Linked DNA regions of Homo sapiens. The protein of the gene in region 2 interacts with the protein of the main gene of each other region in a biochemical or structural test. Each region holds a gene or a part of one and is shown on either strand. Other genes may lie near its edges.

The links.
Region 1: the proteins of FTH1 (region 2) and NCOA4 form a complex in vitro, tested with the Homo sapiens proteins (one study listed by BioGRID).

Annotation. Positions count from the first base shown.
Region 1 is NC_000010.11:46,023,713-46,027,625, reverse strand, and holds part of NCOA4 (nuclear receptor coactivator 4), read left to right. Parts: intron 1-97; exon of another isoform or gene 98-160; coding exon of another isoform or gene 161-194; intron 195-3,913. UniProt on the Homo sapiens protein: Cargo receptor for the autophagic turnover of the iron-binding ferritin complex, playing a central role in iron homeostasis. Acts as an adapter for delivery of ferritin to lysosomes and autophagic degradation of ferritin, a process named ferritinophagy.
Region 2 is NC_000011.10:61,965,999-61,969,911, forward strand, and holds the start of FTH1 (ferritin heavy chain), read right to left. Parts: upstream 1,637-3,913; 5' UTR 1,428-1,636; coding exon 1,314-1,427; exon of another isoform or gene 1,296-1,313; intron 1-1,295. UniProt on the Homo sapiens protein: Stores iron in a soluble, non-toxic, readily available form. Important for iron homeostasis. Has ferroxidase activity. Iron is taken up in the ferrous form and deposited as ferric hydroxides after oxidation. Also plays a role in delivery of iron to cells.

The DNA.
Region 1 (3,913 bases), on a different chromosome or scaffold from region 2:
TAGAAGGCCATGGCATTTTTTATTACTCTTCTTGCTACTTTTTAGTCCTTTTAAAATTTTCATCCAAGGTTTTCATCTTGACTTTGTTTTCATACAGTTATGTCTGGACACATTGCTTCAACATAGAACGCACATGAACAATGTGGAGGTCTAGGCTGGAATGGGGGCCCAGTTGACCACTTTTGCTCTAGCTGGTAGGCATTAATACTATCTCCATGCATGTCAGTTAGAGGAGCTGCCATATTGTCCTTAGCTTATCTTCTTTGATTGTTAAATCATAACATTGCAATGCTTAACTTCTGATATGAATGACTACAGTCTTAAGTCTTAATCATTCTTTTTTTTTTTTTTTTTTTTGAGACGGAGTCTTGCTCTGTCAGGAGGCTGGAGTGCAGTGGGCGATCTCCGCTCATTGCAAGCTCCGCCTTCCGGGTTCACGCCATTCTTCTGCCTCAGCCTCCCGAGTAGCTGGGACTACAGGCACCCGCCACAACGCCCAGCTAATTTTTTGTGTTTTTTAGTAGAGATGGGGTTTCACCGTGTTAGCCAGGATGGTCTTGATCTCCTGACCTGACCTCGTGATCCGCCCGCCTCGGCCTTCCAAAGTTTTGGGATTACAGGCGTGAGCCACCGCGCCCGGACCACTCTTAGTCATTCTTATCCCAAGTTGTCATCCCTAATTTTGCTTGGCTTGATTAATCAAGATGTTCCTCTTTGGGGTTAGCAGTGTGTTTGGGGGCACCTTTGGGGCTTAATATTCCTCTTATGCAGCATTACCTAAGTGCTCTACAAATATGGCAGTTTGGTTCAGTGAAGTAGTGAGTAGCTCACAAAATAGGTTAAAAGGTTTTGTTGTCAGTTTGGTCATGGGTGAGAAGTTAAGTCTTTTAATACTGAGACAATTTCAGCTTTCAAAAGAAGATAATCTCAGGTGTGTTTTGAGCTTTATTTTGGCATTATTGTTAGTCCTCTAGGCTTTAAAGGAGGGAAAATATTAATATTTTATCACTTGTTGGCTTCTATGGGGAGAACCACAAAGTGTTTGCCATATAAAATCAGGATAAAATGGCATTATTACTGTGATAGTAGGTAAGTTAACATATTTTCCTATCCTTGACTCTATTATGGCAAGAAGTTTCAAGTTGAATATAGTCCCCCCAATATTCAACTTGAAATTCAGTTAGAATTTCTGTGGTACTGCCAACTCTGAAGAAAAAATCCAGAGTTGGCTGTAAAATACAGTAAATGTGTCCCCTTTAACCCACAATCTTGCTGCTATTTGTGTGAATCCATGAAGCTGAGCTTTGTGGTTCTGGCAGCAGGAAAGACACTATCTCAGCACTTATTCTGGGATCATACTTTCAGTGGCAACACCCTTGCCAGCTTTGTCTTGTTTGAAAAAAGCCAAAAGTAATAGTTGTGCTAGAAACATTTTCTTTCTCTGAAAAAACCTTCCTGCATTAATACAGGCCTTAGTGGGACATCAAGTTGATTATCTATGTTTAAAGCAGAACTATACCATACTTACTGTGGCTAGTCTGAACCTAAACATTAATTTATCATATATTCATCCGTTTGTCCAAAATGTCTTAGGCCTCTGTTGAATTTAGGGTGAAGCATTGTACAATTGCCAGGGACATTTTCTCTTTATGTCGATTCAGTGGCACACATAGAATGTGAACGGTTGGTAATGACAAGGTACTGATACCAGGTTGTCTGCTTAGTATTAGGATGTACAAAGCTATTAATTCATAAATAAGACATGGTTTCTTCTCTCATGGAGCCCTCAGGCTAAGGAGGCAGGCATGTAACAATAGGGTAACATATGTTACAGGCGTCCTGCCGGAAACCCATACAGATTACAGTGGTAATGCAGGAGGGAGCAGCCAACTCTATTGGCCAAAAGTATTGAGGAGTGAGGTGCTCAGTCAGGAAAGGCTTTGTAGTTAGTGATGGTGACTTGAAAAGCAGATAGGTAGGGAGAAGAGGAGAGACTGGCATTGCTGACAGAACTGGCATAGCCAAGCTGCACAAGATAAACCAAACTATCCTATGCATAGAAAAGCTGTCCAGTAGATTAGGGTGTGGGAGCTGTTCTGGGAGACAGCAGGAGAGTCAGAGTGAGGCCAGGAAATAGACAGCTGTGATGGTTAATTTTAGGTGTCAACTTGACTGGATTAAGGACATCTAGAAACCTGGTAAAATGTTATTTTGGGGTGTGTCTGTTTCCAGAGGATATTGGGGTGTGAATCCAAGTGGATTAGGTGGGGAAAATCCACCCTCAGTGTGTGTGGGCACCATCCAATCTGCTGGGGCCCAGAGAGAACAAAAACATTGAAAAGGCAGATCTATTTGCTGGAGCTGGGATACATTCTTCCTCTCCTGTCTTTGGACAACAGAACTCCAGGCTCCCCAGGCTTTGGGCTTCAGGACTTGTATCATTGGCCCCCTGGGTTCTCAGGCCTTTGGCTTCAGACTGAGAGTTACACCATCTGCTTTCCTGGTTCTGAGGCCTTTGCACTTGGACTGAGCCATGGTACTGGCATCCCAGGGTCTCCAGCTTGCAGACAGCCTGTCATGGGATGTCTCAGCCTGCTAATCACATGAGCCAGTTCCCCTAATAAATCCCCTCTCATATCTATATCTGTATATATCTTTATGTCTATATCTATGTCTGTCTATATAATGTTCCATCTCTCTGGAGAACCCTAACTCAGGAGCCTTATTGCCTTTAAAAGAAATTTGGACTTTATCCTGTAGGCAAATGGGGAGCCATAGGAGAGCTACGCTGCTTTAGATGAGATGATCTACTTGGGATGGTTGGTTGTTGTTTTGAGACAGCATAGAAATTCTTGAAGCAGAAGAGAGGTAAAATACCTTATGCATTTTTCCCCTTTAGAACCTAAACATTTTATAAAGACACAAGGGCAAATACTGAAGCATAAGGGAGTAAAAAGCTACATGTAAAGTGGTCTGAGTGCAGAATTTTAGATTTTTGTGATTTTCTTTCTCCTTAGTCTTTTTATGTTTATGTAATATTTAATAAATCACATCATTATAGTAACAGCTACAGCTGGCTTGAGGAGAGAAACACAAATGAATATAACTGTGAAACTCAGTGAACATATACATAGGGGAGTAGCTGAAGACTTTACTGTGCTGGGGCGTTGGTCAGGATCTTTTAGAGAGAGAACAGAGACCGTTGGTTAAGTAGGTGACGGCCAACAAAGTTTCTTTGTATTTACATTGTGATCAGCCATTTTTCAGAGGCACATAAAATAGATGAAAGTTCCTGACATGAGTTATATTTTAATAGAATTCCTTCTTTGTTGCCATTGATGTAAATTAGTACAAAGGACCATAAAATTGTAACTTTAGTCATTCAGAAGTATGTCTGTTTTTTTTGTGTCTTTACGAAATGTATTATCCAAGGAGGGCTTTTGGAATTAGGGAGAAATTTTCTTATTTTTGATAATGAATGCCTGGATTGGGGTCCCAGAAATTGTATGCATCACAGACAAAGCAGGCACTTCCACTCTGTTCATCTGAAATCTAAGGGATACTTAATTTAGGGTAATGGCTCCTTAGTGTTCCCCTTTGGTGTTTCTCATGTGATTTTGCTTTACTCTTAATATTAACAAAAACAGCTTTATATGCATAGACAACAGCAAGTATTTTACATTCAAAAAATCGACTGAAAGGTAATAGAATTACAACATTGTCTAGATTTCATCTTTTGGCCTGATTGCATATGCAGGCTATGAGGATTATCTTGGAGAAAAGGGAAAGCTAGAAGTACCATAAGCATGATAGTCACAGGTAGGTAGGGCTATATTGCCAGGCACTGTCCTAAACATTTTAATTCATGTAATTCATTATAGTTCATATATAATTCTCATTGAGTTGGGCCCAT
Region 2 (3,913 bases):
GGTGCGGTGGCTCAGCCTGTAATCCCAGCACTTTGGGAGGCCGAGGCAGGCGGATCACGAGGTCAGCAGATCGAGACCATCCTGGTCAACATGGTGAAACCCCGTCTCTACTAAAAATAAAAAAAAATAGCTGGGCGTGGTGGCGTGCGCCTGTAATTCCAGCTACTCAGGAGCCTGAGGTAAGAGAATCACTTGAACCCAGGAGGCGGAGGCTGCAGTGAGCCGAGATCGCGCCACTGCACTCCAGCCTGGGCGACAGAGCGAGACTCTGTCTCTCACACACACACACAAATTAAAAACCCCCATGCAAGGTGGCAAATGTGGACAGTATGTTGATGTAAACATACTTTTATAATAGTTATATCACAAAAATTTGATTTTCAGTTTTAGACATTTGATGTAGTCAAGTGTTTGTGAAAGGCAGTGACAGTCACAGAAATACAGGCCTGTTTTCAAATCCATTTGGAACACATTTATTCTTGGGATAGTTTGGACAATCACAAGGCAATTCTAAGGAAGACTCCCACGACACTGCCTAAGACCAAGATTTGGGAAAACTGATTCCACTGATCACTGAAAAATTTCTTGCCCAGTAACTGTCGGTGGACTTTATCCAAGAACTGGGGGTTCAATTAGTAGGCCAAACTCCACACCTCTTACAGTAAGATACATAAAAGATAAATTAGGTCCCCTAGGCGCAAGGTCAGGTGACACTTCGGTGACTGCAGAAGGGGCGATTCCTAGAGATATGCTTCAAAGCAAGTGGGACTTAGAGATAAGCAGAGCCGAGAGGTGGATACGGCTGCTCGAGAGGGATCTACCCACAAGATAAGCCACCTCCCGCCAGCCCCCAAGGTTTGCTATTCGACACCGTTACCCAGCAGCTCCGCCACACACAGGCGGACGGGAGCTGGATACCTAAGCAAAAAACGCTGGCATTTAGGGCCAAATGCCGGAGGCAGAGGAAAAGATGGGAAAGCAAAACTCCACCTTCCTAACCGCAGGATTGATCACACAGGCTGGCAGTCTTGCAACCCCAGGATTTCAGGACACCAAGGTCTCCTTAAAAAAGAAGGGTGTGCAGAGGCGGCCCTGGCCTAGGAGGGAGCATTCTCAGGGTACAGCCGAGAAGAACCAGCTGCCCCGACTTTCTGCGCCAGAGAAGTCCTCGGAAACCTCGAGCAGCCTCCATTTTCCAGAAGGGCGCAGGGAGGCGGGAGAGCCCGCGGGTGGCCACACCCCCGGCCCGCCCCAGCGCGCGCCCCGGGAACCGCGCCCGGCCCCCGCCACCGCTTAGGCCCGCCCGCGCTCACCATGGACAGGTAAACGTAGGAGGCGTAGAGCTCCAGGTTGATCTGGCGGTTGATGGCGGCCTCTGAGTCCTGGTGGTAGTTCTGGCGCACCTGCGAGGTGGACGCGGTCGTCATGGCGGCGACTAAGGAGAGGCGGCGGCGGCGGCGGTGGCTGCGCGGCGCTGGAGCGGCGGCGGGGGCCTTGGGGCAGTCCGAGGGTGCGGTGAAGAGGTGACGGAGGGCTGGCTATGGGCGGCCGGCCGGGGTGGGGAACGAGCGCCGGGTTCCGTCCAAGCACTGTTGAAGCAGGAAACCCCGACGACTCTCGGCGAAGAACGTCTGGCCCTGCGGGTCGCTTGTGGTCTCTTATAGCCGCGTCGGCGTCAGGCCCGCCCCGGCCAATCAGCGCCGCCCGCCCCGAGCCCGCTCCTTCCGGTGGGCGCGGGACCCCGCCCCTGCTGTGGGGGAGGGGCGGCCGCTGGAGGCCCTCGCGCGCTCTGGCGGAGCTCGGGAGCGGGGACCGGTAGCCGACTGCCTCTGGGACAGCGGTGGCGTCTCTGTGCCCGTTTAGTGGAGTTGGAGGGAAGCTGCGAGGAGGCGCAGGAAGTCCACCTCAGAACCCCCCCCCCGGTCTAGGGGCGCCCGGGCGTTGGAACCGGCGGGGGAAGGGTGCGGGGGCGCATGGGGTGATCCTGATTCGGCTCCCATTTTCCCGAACGGGCACCCTGAGGCTCCTGGCCCGGGGCATGGTGTTAGAAATCATAGCTGCGGAGAAGCCCTTGTGACACCTTGCTGCAGATTGGGAAGCTGCAGATGATTGGGAAGGTGGAAGGTGGAGACGCGGTCCTTAGGTGGTCGAGCGCATTTTCTCTTCCTCAGAGTCCAGGAAGGAGCGCGATGGAGAAGTGGGGCGCACGGCGGGTTTCGGGTCCGCCCCTGCCCTTCCGACTCCTCCGACCACGTCTGCCTTTGGCTGAAAGCAAATATGGCTCCGTGTGCGGTTTCTGCAACAAAGGCTGGGCGGGCCGGGTTTCCCTAGGGATGGGGACCGCCTCCCCGGGGAGTCGTGGGGGTGAGCCACCGGGGCCTCCGAGAGAATCGCTGGTGTCGCTTCGCACCCAAGGGACACATCTCGGGTTAGAAAGGAGAAACGACGTGGATCTAAAGGCGAAGCCCATGCTGAGGACTTTTCAAAATGGCCTCTTATCGGCCCCACTCACAGGAGCTTCAGGCTTCGGTGGCCCTGTAGGACAACCCTGGGGTGTCATTGGAGAGAAGCTGACGGGGTTAATGGCGGGTGACAGGTGAAAGAGACCCCGGAGGGGTGGGGCCGGTGTGTGTGGCTAAGCTGAGTCCCAGGCACAGGGTGGATGTGAATTTATGGGTGGCAGAGCTAGAGCTAGGCCCTGCCCTTACCTAGGTCCTGGCTTCGAGGTCCACTGTTCTGTCGCGTCTTTTGACGCATCGGTGGAAGAACTGAATTTCAGGATGCTCACAAACCTGCAGCTGGAAGCTAGACTTCCAAACCTTAGTTTAAAAAAGCAACTCTACTGAAATACTAAAATAAATTGCCGACGGAATTAGGGTGATTTCTTGTTCACGGTTTCATTTAAAAATGCACCTATGTTATTTACAGGAAAAACGTTTTAGTGGTGCTAGAGCTACAAGAATAAGGTAAACAGAAGGATGCTGCTAGACCAGGAGTACCTTACCCAGTCTGGGATAGGAGGAGGTCGGGGAAGCCCTCCCTAAGCAAGACACGTGAGCTGAGTTTGAAGAAAAAGTTAAAAGGAAGGTGAAGTGCGGGAGAGAAACAGGGAAGGGAATTTGGAGCAGAGTGAACAGCATATGCAAAGGTGTGGAAATGTGGAAATGCATGGCCTGTTAAAGCTGCCTTAAGAAAATATGTTGCCTGGGGCTGGGCGCGGTGGCTCATGCCTGTAATCCCAGCATTTTGGGAGGCCGAGGCGGGCGGATCACTTGAGGTCGGAGTTGGAGATCAGCCTGGCTAACTAACATGGCTAAACCCTTCTCTACTGAAAATACAAAAATTAGCCGGGCGTGGTGGCATGCGCCTGTAATCCTAGCTATTCTGGAGGCTGAGGCAGGAGAATCGCTTGAACCTGGGAGGCGGAGGTTGCAGTGAGCCGAGATCGCGCCTTTGCACTCCAGCCTGGAAGACAAAACAAAACTCCGTCTCAAAAAAAAAAAAAAAAAAGAAAGAAAGAAAGAATGTTGGCCTGGAAAGTACAGTTTATGTTGGGGGATGCTGGTTAGGGTGGAGAATAGGGGCAAGATCGGGCAGGGTTGTGTTCCATAAAAAGAGGTTAAACTTGATCCTAGAGACAGCATAGAGACACCTCATTAGCTTTGTTTTTAGAAACCTTACACTGGGAATCTCTTAGGATAAGAGTATAGCAAAGTCACCATATATAGGATCCAAAGCTTTCCTTTATAACAGTAACCACCAGTTAGAAAATATGGGGAAAAAAGAATGGAAAAAAAAATGTTTTTCACTTACATTGACAACAAAAGCTTAAAGTACCTTGGAATAAAGTTAACAAGAAATATATAGAAAAAACTATAAATGCTTACTGCTGGACAAAAAATTCAAAAAGCCT